Homo sapiens: one gene and its partners. The protein of the gene in region 6 purifies or fractionates together with the protein of the main gene of each other region. This does not show direct contact. Each region holds a gene or a part of one and is shown on either strand. Other genes may lie near its edges.

Region 1 (3,751 bases), on a different chromosome or scaffold from region 6:
TATCTGTAGTCCAGGATACTTAGTTACTCTCGTGATGACTTAATATTTTCTCTTCCTCCTGATTATCATAAATATTAGGGGCCCTCAGTGGAATAATTTAAGAAAAATTCTTCCCTAAACAGCAGATCTGAAAAGCTTACTCCCCAAATATTTATTCAATGTACTATACAAGGGACCTTAGTTTACCTCTCTCTGTTAAGCCTCATAACACCTGTATCATAAAACTATCTTGGAGACTATTGATAATGTATATAAAGTGCTAGTGTGGGCTATGTAATACATAGCAGATAATCAACAGGAGGCAAATGCTGCTTTTATAAAAATGTCTGGAACAAAAGCCAATATATGCCTTCTGCTGAAAGTGCTCATTTGTGTCCTGATTATGGTCACTGCTATTCTTCCCGAAATCTTTACTCCTGGGCAGTAAACAATGCCAGCAGAAACTAAAAGTGACCATTTTTCTTCTCTCTAAAGAAAAATTTAATATTGACTGCATTTGTTAAAATAAGACATTGTGTTATGTTTATTAGGCAGATATTCTTGGGGGAAAGTTTTTTTTTTTTTTTTTAAAGATCTCTCTTATGGCCTTGGCTAATATTTGAAATCTTATATCTTAGAAAAATCTTCATTCTTTGTCACAGTTAAGGGGTGGTTTGACTGGATTAATTTTTTTCCTTAGAAAATTTTCCATAATTTTAAAAGTATTTAAAGCCTTTTGGCTTCTAGCTTCCATTGGTTCGGTTGAGAATGGATTTTTTTGGACCACTTTGAGTCTTTTTTTTTCTTCGAGATGGAGTCTTGCTCTGTCACCCAGGCTGGAGAGCAGTGGCACAATCTCGTCTCACTGCAACCTCCATCTCCCAGGTTCAAGCGATTCTCTTGCCTCAGCTTTCCAGGTAGCTGAGATTACAGGTGTGCACCACCACACCCAGCTAATTTTTGTATTTTTAGTAGAGACAAGGGTTCACCATGTTGCCCAGGGTGGTCTCGAACTCCTGGCCTCAAGCAATACACCTGCTTCAGCCTTCCAAAGTGCTTGGATTACAGGTGTGAGCCACCATGCCTGGCCTGACCACTTTGAGTCTTGATCTTTAATCAGTGACCTGTTTTGTCACTCAGTAACCTTTAAACCTTTATTCCTGTTGTTTTAAACAATTTACCAGATACCTTTTGGCCTCCAGTGGCTGTTTGGAAATGTTTGGGGAAAGTTTTGATAGTCAACATCCCTGGGGATGCTGGGGGAGGGTCCTTTTGGCATTTCATATCTGTAGGCCAATGAAGTTAATTTTCTTGCAGTTAATTTCCTTGCAACAGAGGGAACAGTCTCACCCAAGATGTCAGTGGAGGCCCTCTTTGGAAGTGTAACCTTGGGGAAATATAAGAATAATTACAGCTGCATGTTGATTATGATGTATGACAAAGGAAACAAGACACATACACCAAAGACCAATGAGTATGTTTGGTAATCATGTTATAGACATGCTATGTGAAATTATGGAGGAAGAAAGTATAAATGACATGGTACAAATTGAAACAGAATAAAAATCACTATGTGAAATACAGTCATTAAAAATTACCTTTCTATATTTATCACGTTATTTCTTGGACATTATAGGCAGTATTATGCTTAGTAATGTTTCTGACACTTTTTCGGTATTTCCACTTTTGACACTTTTCTGTATTTCCAAGTAGTACCCACTCTTAATTACTTTAACAGATCAAGAAAATTAACCCTTTTGTATAGTAGGATATCTATTTGTAACATAAACTCTTTTTTATAGTAGGATATCTGTTTGTAACGTAAACACTTAGCAATTCCAGATCCAGAAAGATTTGAAAAGAAACATTTTTGCAAAGGCTAGAACATGACTGATAATAATAGCTATATATTTCTAAATTAGAGTGGCATTCAGAAAGAGTTGATCAGGGTTGTACTTGTGCAGTTTCATAGCAGTTTCTGAGTTAGCAATTTGCAGTTCTATTTCATTAATGTTTTAGGAAATGATTTACCAGAATAGCATATGTAGGTAGCTGTATTATAAGAATTTGGATTATCCATCATTTTTCTGTGGTCCCTTTTACTACTTTACTTTATTAATGTTGCTGACTAAGAAAACTGTACATTAGAAATGCAGGACTCCAAGGAAGCAAAGAAGGAGTAAGATAATGAGGTAGGAAGATGGAAGAAGATTTTAGAATAGTAGTTTGATAATTTTGTATTAATAGAATAAAGCATTTTAAAATAATTATTAATGCAGAGTCTTCATCTTAATTTGCATATGGTATACTTTTACCTTTCAGAACCTAAATCACAGCCACAGCAGCTTCATCAGGGACAATACAGATCATCAAATACTGAGCAAAATGGAGTAAAAGATAATAATCATCTGAGACATCCTCCTCGAAATGATACCAGGCAGCCAAGAAATGAAAAACCGCCTCGTTTTCAAAGAGACTCCCAAAATTCAAAGTCAGTTTTAGAAGGCAGTGGATTACCTAGAAATAGAGGTTCTGAAAGACCAAGTACTTCTTCAGTATCTGAAGTATGGGCTGAAGACAGAATCAAATGTGATAGACCGTATTCTAGATATGACAGAACTAAAGATACTTCATATCCTTTAGGTTCTCAGCATAGTGATGGTGCTTTTAAAAAAAGAGATAACTCTATGCAAAGCAGATCAGGAAAAGGTCCCTCCTTTGCAGAGGCAAAAGAAAATCCACTTCCTCAAGGATCTGTAGATTATAATAATCAAAAACGTGGAAAAAGAGAAAGCCAAACATCTATTCCTGATTATTTTTATGACAGGAAATCACAAACAATAAATAATGAAGCTTTCAGTGGTATAAAAATTGAAAAACATTTTAATGTAAATACTGATTATCAGAATCCAGTTCGAAGTAATAGTTTCATTGGTGTTCCAAATGGAGAAGTAGAAATGCCACTGAAAGGAAGACGAATAGGACCTATTAAGCCAGCAGGACCTGTCACAGCTGTACCCTGTGATGATAAAATATTTTACAATAGTGGGCCCAAACGAAGATCTGGGCCAATTAAGCCAGAAAAAATACTAGAATCATCTATTCCTATGGAGTATGCAAAAATGTGGAAACCTGGAGATGAATGTTTTGCACTTTATTGGGAAGACAACAAGGTATGGATGCTTTAAAGATATTATACACTAATATTACGAAATGTAACATTCTAGTGGGACTTTATAGAAGCTGTCACTTTGGAACTATGAGTCTTTTTCTACTATTGTACCTGTTTAAAATCTTTGAACAGATTTATAGATATATAAAGGATAAACAAAATATTTAATATTTTTATGGATGCCTAGGGACAATCTGTCCCGTAAGATTTGGTTAAGTTCGGTTTGGTTTTAGCTTACATGCCAGAAAAGTATTGTAAAAGTAATTATGTGAAGTTGAGCTTTATTTTACTTATCATCAACTGAATTACATATGTTTGCTTTTCACTCTGGTAAAATTACACTGATTCACAAGGAAGAAAATCAGTTGAGAGGCACAAAGTAAAATTCTGCAGATTTTCAGTTGAAGAAAATAGTACACATTCAGCTTACTTTTTTAAAAAGTTAACATATAAGTTAATTATTTATTTTATAATAATTTTAAAATTATTAAACCATTGCTTCTCGGCCTTTTGGCTAAGATCGAGTGTAAAAATTATTAAACCAATTTTTAGTTTTATATTATATGGTGGCTAAAGGCAAAGAAAGAAATTGTAGGGGAA
Region 2 (3,751 bases), on a different chromosome or scaffold from region 6:
GATGTCCCTCCAGGATCACTCCTGCTTCACTTTATATTTACTGCTTTTTGATCACTTTATGTAGGTCTAGATAGAATCCTGGGACTTTCCTCACTGTTCTGCTGGGATTTCCTTTGCCTCATCTCTTTATTAGATTCCCTGTTTTTAGCATCTCACAGTTTCCTGAAAAGGGGTGCCTTAGAGGTGAAGTTTCTGAGACCTTGCATGTCTAAAAATGTGTTTGCTTTATTTTTCACCTTTTTTGTTAGTATAGCTGGGTATAGAATTCTAGGATGAAAATCATTCCTCAGTATTTCAAAAGCATTGCTACATGATCTTCCAGTTTTAGTGTTCTGATTAAAAAGTCTGATGCCATCTTGATTCCTCATTGTCTTTTTTTTTTTTTGAGACAGTGTCTCACTTTGGCTCCCAGGCTGGAGTGCAGTGGCGCAATCTTGGCTCACTGCAACCCCCGGCCTCCTGGGTTCAAGTGATTCTTGTGCCTAAGCTACCCTACTAGCTGGGACTACAGGTACATACCACCACACCCAACTAATTTTTGTATTTTTAGTAGAGATGGAGTTTCACCATGTTTACCATGTTGGCGAGGCTGGTTGATTCCTCATTCTTTGGGTGAGGCCTATTGCTCCTTCTACTCTGGAATTTTTCAGGTTCTTCTCTTCCCTGATAGTCTGAAACTTCATGATGATATAGAAGATAGACCTTAGAGTGATTCTATTTTTCCTTATTCTTCTGGGTATTTCATGGGCCCTTTTAAGTTGGAAACTTAAGTTCTAGGAAATTAAAAAAATATTATTTAGCAATTTCCTCACCTCTATTTTCTATGGATTTACTTTTTTTTTTCCTTTTAATTACATTTATTTTAATGCTGAATTTACTCCCGTGCCATAAGTTTTTGTTTCTTCAGTTTCTTCTGGGATATCCTTTTCTTCTGGGCAACCTCCTCTTCTGGTTTAGGAACAATCTGTTCCTTTTCCGTAAGGATCATCTCAATGTGGCAGGGAGAGCTCATGTATGGGTTAATCCGACCATGAGCTCTGTAGGTCCGGCGGCGCATCTTAGGTGCTTTGTTCACTTGGATATGCTCAATGACCAGAGAATCTACATCTAAACCCTTAAGTTCAGCATTACTCTCTGTGTTTTTAAGCATGTGCAGCAAAAATTCAGCACTCTTTTTGGGCCACCGACCTTGTGTCCAGCCCCACTGCTTGGCCTGCGCACACCTGCCAACTCCACCATTGTAACGTCGGAATGGTACACACTGTTTCTGTAAAGTGACATCTTTCAGATACTTCGTGGCTTTTCGTATATGCATACCCTTGATGGCCTGAGCAGTTTCACGAGTGTTCTTAAAGTGAACACGAAGATTGGAACCTCTTGATTTGCATGATTCCGTGGGGTTCTCCGGGTCAAGTGAATAGCGAACCATTTTCACAGATTACCTCAGGCTGCTTCGGATTTACTTTTTTCTACCATCATATTTTAATTTTCTAAGAGGTCTTTCTTATTATCTAATTTCTTTTCCTTTTTAAAAAATAGATCTTGCTCTTGTTTCCTTATTAATCTGTTATTTCCTCTTATATCTAAGGATTTAAATTACATTTTTGTAGCTTTTGTTCCCTAAATTGCCTCTCTTCTCCCAAGTTCATTTTTCTGTTGATTTTAGTCTCTACCTTTTATCTCGGCTTTTTTCAGGTATCTAGAAAGCTTTGGCTGGCCGTAAACAGTGAGACATTAAAACAAAAGCTGGCTGGGTGTGGTGACTCACACCTGTAATCCCAGCAATCTGGGAGGTTGAGGTGGGAGGATTGCTTGAGCCCAGGAGTTCGAGAGCAGCCTGGGCAACATAGGGAGACCCCGTCTCTATTATATTTTATAATATTAAATAAAAATTTTAAAAGCTGATTGGAAGGAAGGGCTACATATGTGGGTGGATCTGTCTGCTTGTTGGCCTCACAAAAATTGATTAAGAGGAAACATAGTTTTACTAAGGTACCCTAAACTGTAAGTTTCTGATATTTTTTTCTCTTGGGCCAGATAATTTTCCTGAAGAGCATTCTCCAGTGTCCTGTCTGGGGTTGGATTTAAGCATAGCAAACAGGATTCTGGAACTAAGCAAGGGAAGGGTACTTGACATCTCACTATAAAATATGTGGACTTTGACTTAATTTTCTTTCCAGAATGGCTTTTCATCTCCTCCTTACAACTGTCATTGGTGCCACTGAATCCAGAGCTTATTTTAATAAATGTCTCCAGAGAGTAACTTTGGAGTCAGCTAGGATTGTTTGCTAAAAAGAAAAATTAGTGTTTGAAAGGGTAAATTAATTTAGTTTCTATTTTGATACATGGAGTAAACTTTACTTGAATTTCTACTCCCACAGCTCTTCAGAACATTCGGTCATTAAGCCACCTCTTGGAGATTCTCCAGGGAGTCTTTCAAGGTCGAAAGGGGAAGAGGTAATACTTTGGGGAAGGAAGTTTTATTGTTTTCATATGCACCTGTAAATTTTGCTAAGAAATTTTCAATTCAAAGAAAGAACCATTTTAGTCAGACGTGGTGGTGTACAGTACCCAGGAGGCCGAGGCAGAAGAATGTCTTGAGCCCAGAAGTTTGAGATTGTAGAGTACTAGAATCGCACCTGTGGATAGCCGTTGCACCACTCCAACCTGGGCAACAGAGTGAGACCTCGTGTCTTAAAAAAAAAAAAACAAAAAAAAACCCCACAAACTTTTACTGCTAATGTTGGTATTTATCTCGAGGCTCAAGGCAGTTGAGCTCTCAGTGGTGTAACTGAAGAGGGAGCCTTAGAAAGCACAGTTGGACACGTGGGAGTGTTCATATTAATGGCCTAGTAGTGGCCTTGGGACATGAATTGAGGCTCTGTGTTATTCTCTGAACCCTATGGTTAATTTCATTATTGGTATCTCTTTGGGCTTCTCATCGGTACACCTTTTTTTTTGCTTTGGAAGCAAACATCCTTTCCTAGCTAGTATACAGCTTCACTCTATCTTACTTTTCCTAGTTCAGATTTTAACCCCATAAACAAAGGTGTTAATTTGAGATGCTTTTAGGGATGAAATAGATAACATAAATTAATAAAATTGACCATTTTTATGATAAGCACAAAGGAATATTTGTCCCTTGCAAAAGAAATATGCAAGTCCAGTGTTTCCAATTCCTTTGATTTAAAAAAAAATATTAGGCCAGGCATGGTGGCTCACACCTGTAATCCCAGCACTTTGGGAGGCTGAGGCAGTTGGATCATCTGAGGTCGGGAGCTCAAGACCAACCTGGCCAACATGGCAAAACCCCGTCTCTACTAAAAATACAAAAATTAGCCAGGCATAGTGGTTCACGCCTGTAATGCTAGCCACTTGGGAGGCTGAGGCACGAGAATTGCTTTAACCCAGGAGGCAGAGGTTGCAGTGAGCCAAGATCGCGCCATTGTACTCCAGCCTGGGGGACAGAGCAAGACTCTGTCTCCAAAAAATATATGTATGTATATATATTAATAGAGACATGGTGTGACTACGTCACCCAGGCTGGTCTCAAATTCCTGGGCTCAAGCAATCCTCCCACCTCGACCTCCCAAAATGCCAGGATTACAGGTGGGAGGCACTGCACCTGACCTGATTTTCAAGAAAAGCTAGAAATCTAGATTTTTATGTGAAATCACCTAGTTTTTTAAATGACAACAAATTTAAAAAAATTTTAAGGCTGGATGCAGTGGCTCACTCCTGTAATCCCAAC
Region 3 (3,751 bases), on a different chromosome or scaffold from region 6:
CCCCTTTCTGAGGCTCCAATTCAAAATGGCTAAATTCTTTTAAGGGAGTTATTGTTCCTCCACAGGAAGACCACTAGTTGGTCTTTCCACAATGGAGCAAACACAGCATCCAGACTCCGTAAGTGGGCAGCAACCATTCTCACGGTCATAGGATTTACTCTCACAATACTCGCTCTCTGACATCACCGCGTACCAGACCCTATGCAGACTGCTGGGAATACTGAGTCCAACATGAAATCGTCTGGCCCTGAATATGCACCAAGACTCATGGTGAAGACAGTAACAGTGTGGGATCACTCACCTCCTCTAGGGCATTGGCTGAACACCGAGAACACATCCAGTCTTCAGAAGCCTTTGCAGGGGGGACCCCATAGCAACCTAACAGGGACACCAAGATGAGCAAATTAAACCCAGTGGTCAGAGTCAAAAGGTAGATTTGCAATTCCTTTCCATATACCACCTCCCAAAGCTACAACCAAATCTCACAGAAACCCCTTAGTTTTCTTTAGTCTGAGTCCCCAGGGCTCAGGCATACAGTATGGCTCAAAGTCTCAAAAAGTCAAAAACTGTAGATTCACTGGTACAAACACCTAGTAAGTGGCAGGGACTAATCCCTTTCTGCTATCTGCAACCAAGAGGATGGCAAAGAGATGACTAGTGCCAGTATGGACCCCTGGAGACAGTGAAAAATCAGCTAGCAACAGACTCCCCAATAAAACATCAACAATCTTTTTGGGGCTGGGAGGCCAGGAGGTGGCAAGAACTTCCAGTGAGCAGGCCCATACTCCTGGGACAGGACACAGAGAAAGGTGAGCAGCACTCACTGGCATGGACCCGGACGCTGCACTTCTTGCAGGAAACGAGTATGCTGGTGCCATCCTCCTCAAGATAAGGAGTAGAAAGGTTGATGTCCGTGCTGCAGCCAGTCGAAGTGAAGCACATTTCTGGAATCAATGGCTTGGTCCTCTGCTTCTGGGGGGCTAAATCTGAAGCATTTCCACAGTTCTGATTAAAGCCTCCAAATTCAACCTAAGGGGAAAGAACAAGTGTACACCTCAGTGAGCACGTGCCTATGCTCTTAGCTTTCCACCTGCTCTATCAGCAGAAAGCTGGCTCTCTTACCGATCTGACTATGGCTACAGCTCCCGGGTGCACAGCCATTATCCCGGAGCTGCTAATTGAAGTTACCTGTAATGACTCAAATTCAGTTTCTCACAGCAGCATCATACAAAGGCCCCTAGGGGACAACTGAGAAAAGGGAGCAAGGTAAGAGGCAACTGGGATTTCAATCTTCCCAAAGAAAGTGGTTAATAAAATGCACTGAGAGGCCAGGTGAGGTGGCTCACGCCTGTAATTCCAGCACTTCGGGAGGCCGAGGCGGGTGGATCACCAGAGGTCAGGAGTCCAAGACCAGCCTAGCCAACATGGTGAAACCCCGTCTGTACTAAGAATCCAAAAATTAGCTGGGTGTGATGGTGTGTGCCTGTAGTCCCAGCTGCACTCCAGCCTGGGCAACAGACTGAGACTCCGTCTAAAAAAAAAAAAAATGCACGGAGATGTTAGCAGCTAGGCTGCTACTGTGGGCTCCCTTACGTGCTACACTGTGCGGTGACCCCACCTCAGGAGTGTACCCAGAGCAGATGCTCCTAGTAGGCCAGCACTAATTGCCTCTTGTGCCTGTCAGCAGGTCACCTGAACTGCAGCACTGTCACATGGCTGGAGCCCCACCTGTGTGATTCCTGGCTCAGGGTCCCTCCAGGAAGAACTTAAATCCACATACTTCCCTTGGCAAACTATACTGATTGCAAATATCTGCTGGATGGCACCTGCATCTCCATTCCAAGGATGAGGCCCAGAAAGATGTCAACCCCAGAGCCTATGCCATTTGTGAAACTCCTACTTAGTAGATCTGCTTATAGTAAGAACCCAGCCATTCACTCCCCTCATAGGCAAAGGCTTTGGTTTTGCTTTTTGTCAATGGAAAGGTTTAGTGAGTTCCTAATCCAAAGTGTGTTGGTCTGAGGTTCCATTTTCAGCAAGCATGAATCTGGGGCCCTGCCAGGCTCAGCGGCAGCCATGCCACTTTAACCACCACAGCAGGTAAGGACCACTTACCTACCTGCTATGCTGTGCAGGTCCCAGCTGAGACTGAGCTGGTCCCTTGGCACCTGCTGCTGTGAATGCCTTCCTGGCATCCTAGAGCTGGACCCAAAGAGATCCACCAATGAAGCCACAGATGCCCCAGAGCAGGAGGCACACAGCTGAGCTCAGCAATCTTGCTTCCCAGCCCCTCCTCACATATCAGGCCCTTGCTTCCACCCCTCCCAAGTTCCTTCTGCTACTGGCAACACGCATTGTGGCAATGGGAAAGGAAAAACAACATTAGAGGATCTGGCTTTTCAGCTGAGGTTCAGACTGTGGTAAGGAAATCACAGTTCTCCACCCTGGCCAGGACTATAAACCACTTGGCAGGAATAACCACGGACTAGAATAACAGAAATGCAGATTGCTCTGCAAACTGATGTCTGTGATGACTGCATGTGCAAAGGGGAGCCTAAGCCCACCCTCAGCTCATCTCCAAAGCATTCTCAATTGAAACCCACGTTGCTGGGTTATCTGCCTGGAGAAGACTGACCAATACACAGATGGGGCAGAGAATGCTGGGGGTGGAGGTGGCCTTTCCCAAGACAACCAGTGACAAGCTATATACTCACAATTAAATCTAGCTTCCCTATGATTGCTGGTCCTGGGTAAACAGAGTGCATGGAGCTGGGTTACCTGATGATAAGTCTGGAAGATCATACAGACAGCGCAGTGAGGGGCCTGTTGGGCCATGGTCTCATTGAATTCCTTCTCAGCCTCAAAGTTTGGAGGTCGGTTCTGCCACAGTTGGCTCAGAGGCTTGGCCCAGGCCTCTGTCTCCTCAGCCTCTTCCTCAGGGGTCAGCTGTTCAGATGTCTCTAGAGGAGGAAACAGAAGTGTGAGTCAGCACTAACCCTGCACATCTGTGGCTCTGCCTGGAGAACAGATGAGTTCCACTAGGACTCCTGATCCTAGGTTTGGACCAAGGGTGACTCCTGAATTCCTAAGGATGATAAAGGCAAAGGGTGGAAGCAACTGTCAATAGACTCCTTCAGTATCTTGATGATGTGTAGGGAGTCCTGCCAGTACCCCATTCTCTGGCCAGACTGACTCATGGCCTCCATTCTTCCTCCTGCCCCACGAGCTCAGCTTGCTCTACTCTCCCTTAACAGCTGCCACATTCAGCCCTTCTGCCCAAGGACAGCAGAATGAAGCACCATCTTGCCAAAAACCATCTTATTTGCTGCCTCCAAAACGTCAGCCTGTTAAGTCCTTTACCTTTTAGAGTTTTCCCTTTAGTGCAACTAAACAAGGAAGGAAAATAACAGGGAATTGGCAAAGCTTAAAAGTTGTAATATCATGGTCCTTGGCCAGGACTTACCAGCTTCCTCTGGAAAGGTCAGCAGTATGTACCTATTCTGGACAAGGCTCCCCAACCCCTCCTAGAGCAGAGCTACATGTCCAAGATGAATCCTCTTCCCAGCCACAAGATGTGATGCCTGACGCTGGCAAACAATATCCTGCAGGCTGAATCCAGCCCACTGAGGAAGCTAAGAATTGTTTTTACATTTTTATGATGGGGTCTTGCTATGTTGCCCAGGCTGGAGTACAGTGGCTATTTACATGTGCGATCATAGCTCACCACAGCCTCAAACTCCTGGGCTCAAGT
Region 4 (3,751 bases), on a different chromosome or scaffold from region 6:
ATCACACCATGCTACCTCCTGTGCTAAGTGTCTCCCCAGGGTGGGAAGCAGGGGTATGAAATGCCCCTTGCTAGAAACTTGCAGAGTTGAGAAGATGTACGGCCGAGAGTCCTTGCAGTTCTGGATGCCTTCTGCCCTGGTGGCCTGCATCTTGCCAGTCTCCTTCAGGGGCTGCCAGGTGAAAGAGAAATTGGGCAGTTTCTCTTTCAGCTTAATAGATAGAACCCAGGGTGGGGAAAAGGAGAGTAGCCACAGAAGGGGAAAAAAGTAACACCTGATACTTTTGACTGCTCCTGTAAGTCATTGCTTTGCAACAGCCCAGTGAGGCAGCCTTGTTAACCCCACTTTTTTGCATTTGAAGAAACTGAAGCACAAGAGGTTTGAAGCCATTTTAGTAATCTACTGTGGAGCAGTTTATAGAAGGATTGGGATTAGATATGATTGTTTTCTATTTATGGATATAATGTAGAAGTTTTGGCAAAGAGCATTGTTTTCCTCTAGGGAAAAAGAATTAATGAAATGAAAGATGTCTGTAATGCTTCTTCAGTGAATTAAGTGTTGAAAGTTTGAGGTTATTGTAATGTCACTGAATGTGATATATACTTAATCCAGGCACCAGAAAGTATAAGACATAAAAATATGCTGCTATAGGACCTACGTTATGAAAATGGGTTTGTTAATTGAAAATAGATTTTTCACATGCACTTTTGGTATAGATAACACAATTCTTATTTCACATTTGGCTGAAGAGCTGCATTGATGCAGACAAGGGCAAATTCTTGCTTGGGATTACCACTAGTAGCATGGATTTGCTTTAACCGTTAAGAGTAGAATTCTTAACTCTTGTCATCAAGTCTTAGAAAGCAATATATAGGTGCAGAGGTAAGAGGAGCAATAAGGAAGGTTTGGCAAGTGAGAGGGAGCATGGAGGGATGTGGGTTGGAAGAGGTGGGCAGAGCCCAGGTCTTACTGAATCTTAAATTCATGGCAAGACATTCAGGAATAATTCTGAATGTGATGAGAAACCATTGGAGTGGTGTTCTCAGATTTATGTTTCATGTTTCCTAAGATTACTTACCATGTGGAGATACCGAGAATTCACCTCTTTCTTAGGATGAAGGCATAATCGATACAGAGATCATTATGATCAGTTGTGTGCCTGACTGTTAAAGGTTATTTTTTTAATTCCAGAATATGGTTGAGCCCCTTATACCCACGAATTGCTGATGGAACCCACAAATCTGGAGAGTCGCCAACACATTTTAAAGCTGATCTCATCAGTTACTTGATGGCTTATAATGCCCCTTCTCTCAAGGAGTGGATAGATGTCATTCACAAGCACGATCTCTCTGAAACAAAGTATGTGTCAGCTTATCAATTTGGGGTGCTTATGATAGGCTTATACCTTGGGAGCCTCATGAGGTCTGGCATGCAGGGGCCTGGAAAGAGGTGGGGTGAAATCTAGCCAAGCTTCAGGATGTGATGAGGGGATGAGCAGATTCTATCACATCTGTATCTTGTGGTTCTCAGGCATTAAAGTGACAGCCAGTGAATCCTCATGTTTACCTTAGCCTCCCACTGGGTTACTCTCACAATTATTGAGTTCTTTGTCTGGTACTTTACATCTTGTAGGCATTCCATCATTAGTTGATTTGCTTGAAAATGAATTTGAGAGTCAATTCAAGAAAATGGATTGGCTCTTAGATCATTTCTTGATTATATTAGTTTTCATGTGTATTTTGTCATTTTTTTTGGTGCCCAAAGCACATCACTATATTTTATAACTTGTGTTTTTATGTCTTTTTAGTGTTTATCTTATTGGTTCAACCCCAGGACGCTTTCAAGGAAGTCAAAAAGATAATTGGGGACATTTTAGACTTAAGAAGGTAACAGAACTTTTACTATTTTAACATTTTTAAAAAATTTAATGTATATTCTCTCTTTTAAAATAATTATATATTTTGATGCAGCTTCACAATATTTCTGCACAATTCTGGGCAAATAGATACTTGATAAATTGATAATTATAATTCTTAGTAATTACTGCTTTTTAATGTGTTTTGCCTCTTTTATAGCTGTAGGCTGTTAATGGCATAAATATATAGACCTTTTCTAGTTTTTATATTGTAATAAAGATAGAGGCTTCCTATTCATACACATACTGTAGCTTTGATTATAGCTTTTGATTGTTCAGCATATCAAGTTTTAAGATATAAATTCAACAAACAGAAAATGTTGAGTAAAGACTACAACTGAGCTATAATATATTTTGATTATTAAACCAGTGCCCTTAAGAAAACAAATTCAAAAATAATACTTGCTGCTGATATGAAAATGCACGAAGAAAGGTCATAAAATAAGTTGAAGATTAAAGTTTTTTTCATCTCTTTTTAGGTGGTTTACTGACCTTAATAAATTCCCTGGCCAGGTGTGGTGGCTCACGCCTGTAATCCCAGCATTTTGGGAGGCTGAGAGGGGCGGATCACAAGGTTAGGAGTTCAAGACCAGCCTGGCCAACGTGGTGAAACCCTGTCTCTACTAAAAATACAAAAATTAGCCGGGCATGATGGCAGGCACCTGTAATCCCAGCTACTCGGGAGGCTGAGGCAGGAGAATCGCTTGAACCCGGGAGGCGGAGATTGCAGTGAGCTGAGACCACACCATTGCACTCCAACCTGGGCAACAGAGCGAGACTCCGTCTCAAAAAAATAAATAAATTCCCTAAAGTGGCTTTCTTAAAAGCCTTAACCTCTTATTCCATAAACTATTTAAAGTCTAAGAATTTTCCCTTGGTTAATGAAACTTTTTATTTTAATTTCCTTTTATGAAATGAGACCACAGCTTAAAGCAGGCAAGATCTTGAAGACATCTTTATGTCTTGGCCTAGAGAGGAAGTTCAGCACATTGGCCTGTGCCCAGTCTTGGAGGCAGATATCCATAGCTGGGTTCAAACCCTGCTTTGTTATCTACAAGCCGTGTGACCTCGACTTGTTCCTTAACATACATCGGTTGTCATCTATAAAGTGGACATAATAATAGTACTTCCCTCCCGTGATTGTGAGGATTAAATGAAATGATGAATGTAAAATAGTACAGGGCACACAGTAAGTCTTCAGTGCACATACACAGTTGTTTGTGGACAAATGTCTAATGGTTTAGATAGGCTAGATAATAGCACGTATTATGTGTGATCACCATCTGATACTGAAAGTTCAACTGTATGTTAAGAGTTTTCAAACCACTTTTTACACACAGTTGCTCATGTTGCACCACAGCTTTCTTCCAGGAAGGCCGGCCGGTGATTAGGTGCCTGTTTCCACTGAAGTGTAAATCTAAGCCAGAGGCTTGTCCAGGATAGGGTGGCCCTTCAGGGGCTGAGCACTGCAGTAGAAACTGGGTGTTGTAAGTTGTCGGTTCAGCTCTGTTTCCTACACCATGCTGTACCCAAGGTGGACATGGAAACTTTGGGCTTTTTGGGAAGTGTATGTGTAAGTATTAATGCCTAACCTGTGTTAAGGAAAATAATACATATTAAATTAAACAAAACGTCAGTCAGATGAGCTACAGTTTATTTTTCTGCTCTCTCCAGCCCTCTAGGTAGGCATTCAGTACATATTTAAGTGGATACAGTTTCCAAATGTTTTCTTAATTGTTTCTGCAGCTTTGCATAATTATCAAAGCAGGAAATGCAGATCAGTCTTCTGCAGTGTTTTAGCTGGTATGTGTATGTAAATATTCTCTTTTATGTTTA
Region 5 (3,842 bases), on a different chromosome or scaffold from region 6:
CTGCTGACAAAGACATAACAGGGACTGGGCAATTTACAACAGAAGAGGTTTAATGGACTTACAGTTCCACATGGCTGGAGAGGCCTCACAATCATGGCAGAAGGCAAGGAGAAGCACATCACATCTTATATGGATGGCAGTAGGCAAACAGAGAGCTTGTACAGGAGAACTCCTCCTTTTCCAAAACCATCAGATACCTTGAGACGTATTCACTATCATGAGAACAGCACTGGAAAGACCTTCCCCCATGATTCAATTACTTCCCACCGGGTCCCTCCCACAACACGTGGGAATTCAAACTGAGAGTTGGGTGGGGCAACAGCCAAATCATAATGGATAAAATGACAGAAATATCTGTCTCTTGCTAAGCTCTTACAGCTTTTCTCAGCTTATACCATGAGGCCTGCCACAAGGAAGGATTTCCCCTATAAAAAAATTTCCTGATAATTCTCAAAACAGCCTCTGGCGTCTCTTCACGAATAACATCATCCACCCATCTCTCCATCCTTCCATTCATTCAGTTATTCTATAATTGTCAATTCTCTGAGCAGCTACTACACACCAGGCATCACGTGAAGATGGAAGGTAGAACAATGGCTAAGCAGAGGAACTTCTGGTGGTAGCTGGCTGGTCCTGGGCTCAAGTTCATGAGAGGTGACACAGCTGTGCAGCCAGCAGTTGCTCTACAAACATTTAGATGAGTGAAAATAATGAGGGAGGGACCATCCGACACCTGGATTTGAAGGATAGTTTGGATTTTCCAAAAACCACACTTGCAACAGGTTGTGTACTGCAGGTAGACCTGGATTAGTGACCTAAGTTTCATCTTATCTTGAGGAGAGTGAACTTTGATATAAGGGCTCAGGGAATCCCAGCTCCTTTGTTCCTTCCCATGTTGGCTGCAGAGAAGGGATTCCCCATGATAGCCAGGGTCTTCAGGGCCTACTGTCACAATGTACAGAATAAATGGATGGACTAAAAGGGCCAGGTTGCTCCAGAGCTTCCGAACGTGACCATTCTTCCCAGAGTTTCACTGCTCCGAACTCTCCTTCACAGACTGAGGTCAGCCTGCCCCTATGTTGTTTACCCTGAGTTCCTCCTTGGAGAAAAGGCTTTTTAGAACCGAAATAATCATTTTAGTTTTTCCTTTCCCCTGCCAGGCACGAGTATACTGAGTGATGGATTAACAGAATATTACTATTTTTCACCTAGCCACCATGCCCTTGGCCTCCCAGAATAACCAGAAATACCTATTGTTTATCTCTACATCCACTTCATATATTAAACAGCCCTACAAGTGTCACCTGTGCTGAGGATTAGACTCTTCCAGAAGATAGGACAGTTTCTGGTTCCAGCAGCCCCAGAATGTCTTCCTTCTCTCTCTTTCAGCCCACACCACCCTTCCTGTAAACACTACACCTGGGAGCAAAGGGTGTTCAGGGGGATAAAGCCCAGGTGACATCCTTGTCAGACAGCAAGTGCCACAAGTTTCATCACAAAAGTTGAGTCAACAGGTGGGTGAGGGAAGAGGGGTGAATCACATCTGACAGGTAAGGAATGTAGGCACAGCAGCCCAGATGGATCCTGTTTCCTTGAGGCAGGGCTTGTTCCATGCATAAAAAGCCAGTTGGCTGGGAACACTACACCAGTTCTAAGGGACCATACAGAGTATTCCTCTCTTCACACCAGGTGAGTCTCTTTACTTGGAACTCTTTAGCATCCATTCTAGGTATTTAATTTTTATTAGAGTCTCCTTGGCATTCTTGGTATTTTTTTCCCTCATTATTGAATTTGATCATAGCCATGCAGACTGTTCAACTGAATTATAACCTCTAGGAATATCTTCATTTTAAAAGTGTTCATACTGTAGGCTTGAAGAGAATTTAGACATTATCAGTTCTTCATTCACTCTTTCTGTGTCAGCAAGAAGGGGGTTGGTTTATTCAAGGATCCATAGTAAGTTTGTAATGGGATAATGACTAGAACCCAGGTCCACAGCACTTACCCTGGCATTATAATTCCTTCTTATTTATAATTTTAATACAGAGAATTTTATTCTTTCAACAGATACTTTTGTGAGAGCTTACTATATTTGGCAATTTGTTTGCAAAGAAATAATTTAAGCATCTATGATACTACAATTTAATCAGGAAATAAGAGCTAAAATGCATTGTATAACAGTAACTTATCAGTGCCAGGTGATTAGGGCAAGTTCTGTGACAGTTTGGGAATAGAGAGATTTCTGGAAGGTTTTTTCTAGAGAAGCCACTAAAAGTCCCATATGAAGCGATCTGTGGAGTTTGGTTAGTGCTTGAATGAGTAGGAACAAGGAAAACATTTAAGACAGAGGAGAACTTGAGCCAGGCCACAGGTGGGATTGCTTGGGGTTCTAGAGAGGTCAGAGTTATACAATAGATGATAAGCCATGCTATTTATCAGAAATGAGTGAGTAGATTTAATTTGTTAGGGTTTTTTTTTTCCAAAGAACCTCACATTTCCAATGGTCCAGTATTATGAGTCTCATATTCCTGCTAGAAGCCTGTTATTGTGCTGTGTAGGAAGAAAGAGAGCACCAGGAGAGGCCCTGCTCCAGTGGAGCAAGAGCAAATCATCTTTAGGTTCCTCTTCTTCAAAGGCTCAGAAATTAAATTAAGTATTCTTTGTGGTCAAGAAGGGGAAAGAACATAGCTTTTTAAGAGACCAGAAGTGGTATTCACCATGGCTTCTTCCCTATTATTCTCTGCTTAAATCATCTGTTCTGTGTCCAGGACCAGTCACTGTTGCAGCATGAGTTCCCAGCAGCAGAAGCAGCCTTGCACCCCACCCCCTCAGCTTCAGCAGCAGCAGGTGAAACAGCCTTGCCAGCCTCCACCTCAGGAACCATGCATCCCCAAAACCAAGGAGCCCTGCCACCCCAAGGTGCCTGAGCCCTGCCACCCCAAAGTGCCCGAGCCCTGCCAGCCCAAGGTTCCAGAGCCATGCCACCCCAAGGTGCCTGAGCCCTGCCCTTCAATAGTCACTCCAGCACCAGCCCAGCAGAAGACCAAGCAGAAGTAATGTGGTCCACAGCCATGCCCTTGAGGAGCCGGCCACCAGATGCTGAATCCCCTATCCCATTCTGCGTATGAGTCCCATTTGCCTTGCAATTAGCATTCTGTCTCCCCCAAAAAAGAATGTGCTATGAAGCTTTCTTTCCTACACACTCTGAGTCTCTGAATGAAGCTGAAGGTCTTAGTACCAGAGCTAGTTTTCAGCTGCTCAGAATTCATCTGAAGAGAGACTTAAGATGAAAGCAAATGATTCAGCTCCCTTATACCCCCATTAAATTCACTTTCAATTCCACTCTTGACTGTGTGTCATTGACTCTACAACTTCATTCCTTTCCCTCGTGAAGCGGGAGCTGTACACAGAGATGAGTTGGTGAAGAAGGGCTTTGTCCAGAAGGCATCTGATGCTCACATTAGGAGGGTGAAGGGCTGCCCCCACAAGCATTCCTGGGCTGCCTATGGGAGGTTGTGTAATGCCACCTAGAGGCTGTTGCTTTGGGCATCCAGGGCTGGAAAAGGGCTCTCCTCTTGCAACTCAGTGAGTCATGCTAGAGTTTAGTTAGCACTTGTCTAAGCTGACTCTGACTCACTAATCCTGATTGCCTTCTCTCCAAATCTGGCTTTTAGACTGCTAACTTACCAGCCAATTCCTGTTTATTTCAAGTAATGTTGTTCCTACATATGCTAACCTGCTCCTTCTCACTCATTTCTCTGATATCTACAACCTAGATTTCCAAACACCTCCAAAGATGCACAGACTCCGTTCTTTATCTCAGTTAGTCATTTCTAGTTTCT
Region 6 (3,751 bases):
TCAAAAGTAAGAATTGTTCTCTGAACTTTTTGCTTTTATTTTCTACAAATCAGTTCACAGCGGTGGAGTTAATTGCATATCATTCCATCCTTCGGGTAACTATCTCATCACAGCTTCTTCAGATGGTACCCTTAAGATTCTGGACCTCTTAGAAGGAAGGCTCATCTATACACTTCAAGGACATACGGTATTAACACTCAGATTCTTGCTTTTTATATATAAAAATATAAAATAATATATATTTTAAATTTCTGATCCATTTTTATGTCCCTTTATTGTTTTTCCAGACATAGCACACATTGCTGCTATCATAAAATTTTTTTACTTCCAAGGCTGTTTTTATCCTCTGGAAGCAACTCTTAGAAATATTATTTGTGGCTGGGCGTGGTGGCTCACGCCTGTAATCCCAACACTTTGGGAGGCTGAGGCGGGCAGATCACCTGAGGTCAGGAGATCGAGACCATCTTGGCCAACATGATGAAACCCCATTTCTACTAAAATACAAAAAATTAGCCAGGTGTGGTGGCACATGCCTGTAATCCAAGCTACTTGGTTGGGAGGCTAAGGCAGGGGCATCACTTGAACCCAGGAGGGGGAGGCTGCAGTGAGCTGAGATTGCACCACTGCACTCCAGCCCGGCAACAGAGCAAGACTGTCAAAAAAAAAAAATGGAAGAAAAAAAGAAATATTATTTGTTGTAATTCTTATCAAAATCAATGTGTATCTTTCAATGGCCATTAAATGAATCTTCTCCTGCTGTCTTTATCAGTATGTTGTATAGATTGACTGGGTAAATGGTGATGGGTAAGTAGATTCCATACTTCAGATCCTTCCTTCATGTGGAGGCTGTCCCGCTTAGCCCTGACACCCAGCCTCTCACACCTCTCCCTCACTCCTTCTGCTAATTTGTTGGTGGGTTTAGGAGAAATTGGGTAAGCACAGCCTAACACCTTCTACTCTCCTGCCTTTGGGAGTAGCCATTCTTCACTGTTTTTCTCTGATATTCCTTGTGGGGAGACCTGCCCTTGTCTAGTGTTGCCTGTGACTCATTCTGGGCATCCGTTCTAGAAAGCCTATTTGTGTTACACATAAAAGCCACATTCTCTTTTTACAAGCATTTATTAGAAAGAAAGGTGATATTTCGATTCTTATGTGCTGTATTCCTTTGTCTTATTTCTCAATTGGTTTAGAACCAAGTAGGTAAGAGGGGTGCCTTTTATTGAGCCTGTTCAAAGATCCCTCCCTGGCATATAGATCAATTTTTTAAATTTATTATTTCTTTATTTTTGAGATGGATTCTTAGTCTGTCACCCAGGCTGGAGTGCAGTGGCACAATCTCGGCTCACTGTAACCTCTGCCTCCTGGGTTCAAGTGATTCTCCTACCTCAGCCTTCTGTACAGGCGCACCACCACGCCCAGCTAATTTTTTGTTTGTTTGTTTGTTTAGAAGAGACAAGGTTTCACCATGTTGGCCAGGCTTGTTTTGAACTCCTGACCTCAGGTAATCTGCCTGCCTTGGCCTCCCAAAGTGCTGGGATTACAAGTGTAAGCCACTGTGCCCAGCCTAGATAAATTTTTTTGAGTATATAAACTAGTCTTTTCTTCCAGACAATATTCAAACTTCTCTGAATTTTTTAGAATGCATCCTCTTTTTTTTTTTGAGGTACTTCCTTTTAACAAGTATAAGCTGTTTATATCTAGAAATAGAATGAGCCTTGTGGTCTAGAAGAGAAGAGTTTCTTTTTCACAGGTTCTGCCTGGCTTCCTGCTTTGCGTTATCATTTATTCTGCAGTGGTGTTAGGGTAAAGCAGAAATAAATACTAACCAGCTTAAATATATGCATATCCATGGATTTAGGCTGAATAAACATAACAAATAAAAGTGGCCAAGGATTGAAATATCCATGAAAAAAGTACAAAATAATAGGGAAAAAAGATAAACACAGTCTTTCAGTAGGAAAACACTACATGAAGATGGAATTTTAGTCTGGAAGTAAAGGTGTTTATGAAGCTATTAATATTATAAACTAAATCTGTGGGATAGTCTACTTGGGAAAATACAAGATGTTTTTCCCTAAAACTTTTCTTGTACAGATTAAGGACATATTAAAAACATATGGTATATATTAATATTTTTGAGATAAGAAATACTTACTCTTATCTGGACTGAAAAATTGACCTAGAGGCTATCCATCTTGTGACTGTGCCAAGCACAGTCTTGTCCAACTCCGCAGTAACTGCTCAATTTCAGGTTTTCATTACCTCTCACCTAGATAATTACAGGAACTTCCTAACTGGCCTCCAACCAAGCATCTTACTCCAATTCATCTTTCTCAGAATTGTGATACTGATTTTAATCATTCACAGCTCTCCTCCTATCTGTGTTCTGCTCTTTAAACTTTTAGTGGTTTATGGTTGCCTACATGAAGGGGGAACTCAGTGAAGCCCATTGGTCAGGAAATGGACTTCATGTAAATAGCCTCATTCCCATTACCTACATATTTATCATTCAGTTTCTGCTAGTGATTGGTTGAATACAGAGTCCAAAGCCAGAAAATCTTAACAGAAATTCTTATGAACTTACATATGTAAAAGCTTTTCTTGAAAGGAGAAAAAAGTTATTTTTTTAATTAATTTTTAGTATTTTTTTAGTATCATTTATTTGTGTTTTAATATGATTGGGTTGATTCTTTGATTATCTTCACTCTGCCAGCATTAGTTGCTAGCAACTGATGTGTTTTATTAGACTTATTGCATGAGTAGTATGCATAAATTAGGATGAGAAATTGATATCCATAGTCTTCTTGGCCATGAGAAAGCATTACCAAGTACTTTTTTTCTTTATTTCCCTTTATTTCTCAGGGACCTGTCTTTACTGTTTCATTTTCAAAAGGTGGAGAGCTATTTGCATCAGGAGGTGCAGACACACAGGTTTGTAAATCTTTCAGCTCCTCTTTGATTTGGTTAAGGTAAAGGAATCCTTGACCTCAGCTAAGAGTTTTACAACCAGCTAGTTTGTGTATGTTAAGATGTTTGTCAATGAGTTTATATTTTAATTAGTACCATGAAGTCTGCTATCTCATAGCTGAAACAGAGCCAGTTCTAAATTTTGGGAACTCAAATAGTTATTTTCTTTTGCTCATTTTACACTTAACTATACATGTAACTGACACTATATGTCCACTTTCAGTAATTATATAGCACTTTTGCTTGAATCATTGCCTTATCTTAAGCTTCTTGAGGATGGTAAATATAAATCATTTATATACCAAATCTGCATTTATCTGAAATGACCAAAAGTCATTCATGGCCAGATTTATTGAATAAAGTGAATGACCAGTCCAAAACATGGTTTTGGGCTTTGACCAAAAAAAAAGAGGATTTTAAGATAACCAGATATTTTCTTAATATGAATTTTAAACCAGACATGAAGGCAATTCAAAATGTTAAATCTCTCCCTCAACCACACCTTAAAAAAAGATATTGAGAAATAGTAACATAGTTGAAATATATATCTACCCTTCCTACTTTGGGAGACAATTCTGTATATTGTGGGTTTTAAAATCAGCTCTATTGCTTGTACATGCAAGTCAATAACTGCCAACATCATTGACTTTTTTCATAGGTCTTATTATGGAGGACTAACTTTGATGAATTGCATTGTAAAGGTCTTACCAAAAGAAATCTCAAAAGATTACATTTTGATTCACCACCACATCTTCTTGATATCTACCCAAGAACACCACATCCC

What was found.
Region 1: the proteins of POC1B (region 6) and TDRD3 purify together in Homo sapiens (affinity purification with mass spectrometry; one large-scale study listed by BioGRID and IntAct). This does not show direct contact.
Region 2: the proteins of POC1B (region 6) and WDR47 purify together in Homo sapiens (affinity purification with mass spectrometry; 2 studies listed by BioGRID and IntAct, with this or other methods). This does not show direct contact.
Region 3: the proteins of POC1B (region 6) and KDM4A purify together in Homo sapiens (affinity purification with mass spectrometry; one large-scale study listed by BioGRID and IntAct). This does not show direct contact.
Region 4: the proteins of POC1B (region 6) and TDP1 purify together in Homo sapiens (affinity purification with mass spectrometry; one large-scale study listed by BioGRID and IntAct). This does not show direct contact.
Region 5: the proteins of POC1B (region 6) and SPRR1B purify together in Homo sapiens (affinity purification with mass spectrometry, with the first as the bait; one large-scale study listed by BioGRID). This does not show direct contact.

What each region holds. Positions count from the first base shown.
Region 1 is NC_000013.11:60,526,066-60,529,816, forward strand, and holds part of TDRD3 (tudor domain-containing protein 3), read left to right. Parts: intron 1-1,296; coding exon of another isoform or gene 1,297-1,453; intron 1,454-2,301; coding exon 2,302-3,152; intron 3,153-3,645; exon of another isoform or gene 3,646-3,716; intron 3,717-3,751. UniProt on the Homo sapiens protein: Scaffolding protein that specifically recognizes and binds dimethylarginine-containing proteins. Plays a role in the regulation of translation of target mRNAs by binding Arg/Gly-rich motifs (GAR) in dimethylarginine-containing proteins.
Region 2 is NC_000001.11:108,989,960-108,993,710, reverse strand, and holds part of WDR47 (WD repeat-containing protein 47), read left to right. Parts: intron 1-2,381; coding exon 2,382-2,457; intron 2,458-3,751.
Region 3 is NC_000001.11:43,688,123-43,691,873, reverse strand, and holds part of KDM4A (lysine-specific demethylase 4A), read right to left. Parts: intron 2,961-3,751; coding exon 2,779-2,960; intron 1,030-2,778; coding exon 825-1,029; intron 379-824; coding exon 302-378; intron 1-301. UniProt on the Homo sapiens protein: Histone demethylase that specifically demethylates 'Lys-9' and 'Lys-36' residues of histone H3, thereby playing a central role in histone code. Does not demethylate histone H3 'Lys-4', H3 'Lys-27' nor H4 'Lys-20'.
Region 4 is NC_000014.9:89,983,325-89,987,075, forward strand, and holds part of TDP1 (tyrosyl-DNA phosphodiesterase 1), read left to right. Parts: intron 1-1,191; coding exon 1,192-1,359; intron 1,360-1,807; coding exon 1,808-1,886; intron 1,887-3,751. UniProt on the Homo sapiens protein: DNA repair enzyme that can remove a variety of covalent adducts from DNA through hydrolysis of a 3'-phosphodiester bond, giving rise to DNA with a free 3' phosphate.
Region 5 is NC_000001.11:153,029,559-153,033,400, forward strand, and holds SPRR1B (cornifin-B), read left to right. Parts: upstream 1-1,644; 5' UTR 1,645-1,689; intron 1,690-2,768; 5' UTR 2,769-2,787; coding exon 2,788-3,057; 3' UTR 3,058-3,342; downstream 3,343-3,842. UniProt on the Homo sapiens protein: Cross-linked envelope protein of keratinocytes. It is a keratinocyte protein that first appears in the cell cytosol, but ultimately becomes cross-linked to membrane proteins by transglutaminase.
Region 6 is NC_000012.12:89,466,797-89,470,547, reverse strand, and holds part of POC1B (POC1 centriolar protein homolog B), read left to right. Parts: intron 1-53; coding exon 54-187; intron 188-2,862; coding exon 2,863-2,931; intron 2,932-3,625; coding exon 3,626-3,751. Other genes in the region: POC1B-DUSP6 readthrough, read left to right, coding at 54-187, 2,863-2,931, 3,626-3,751.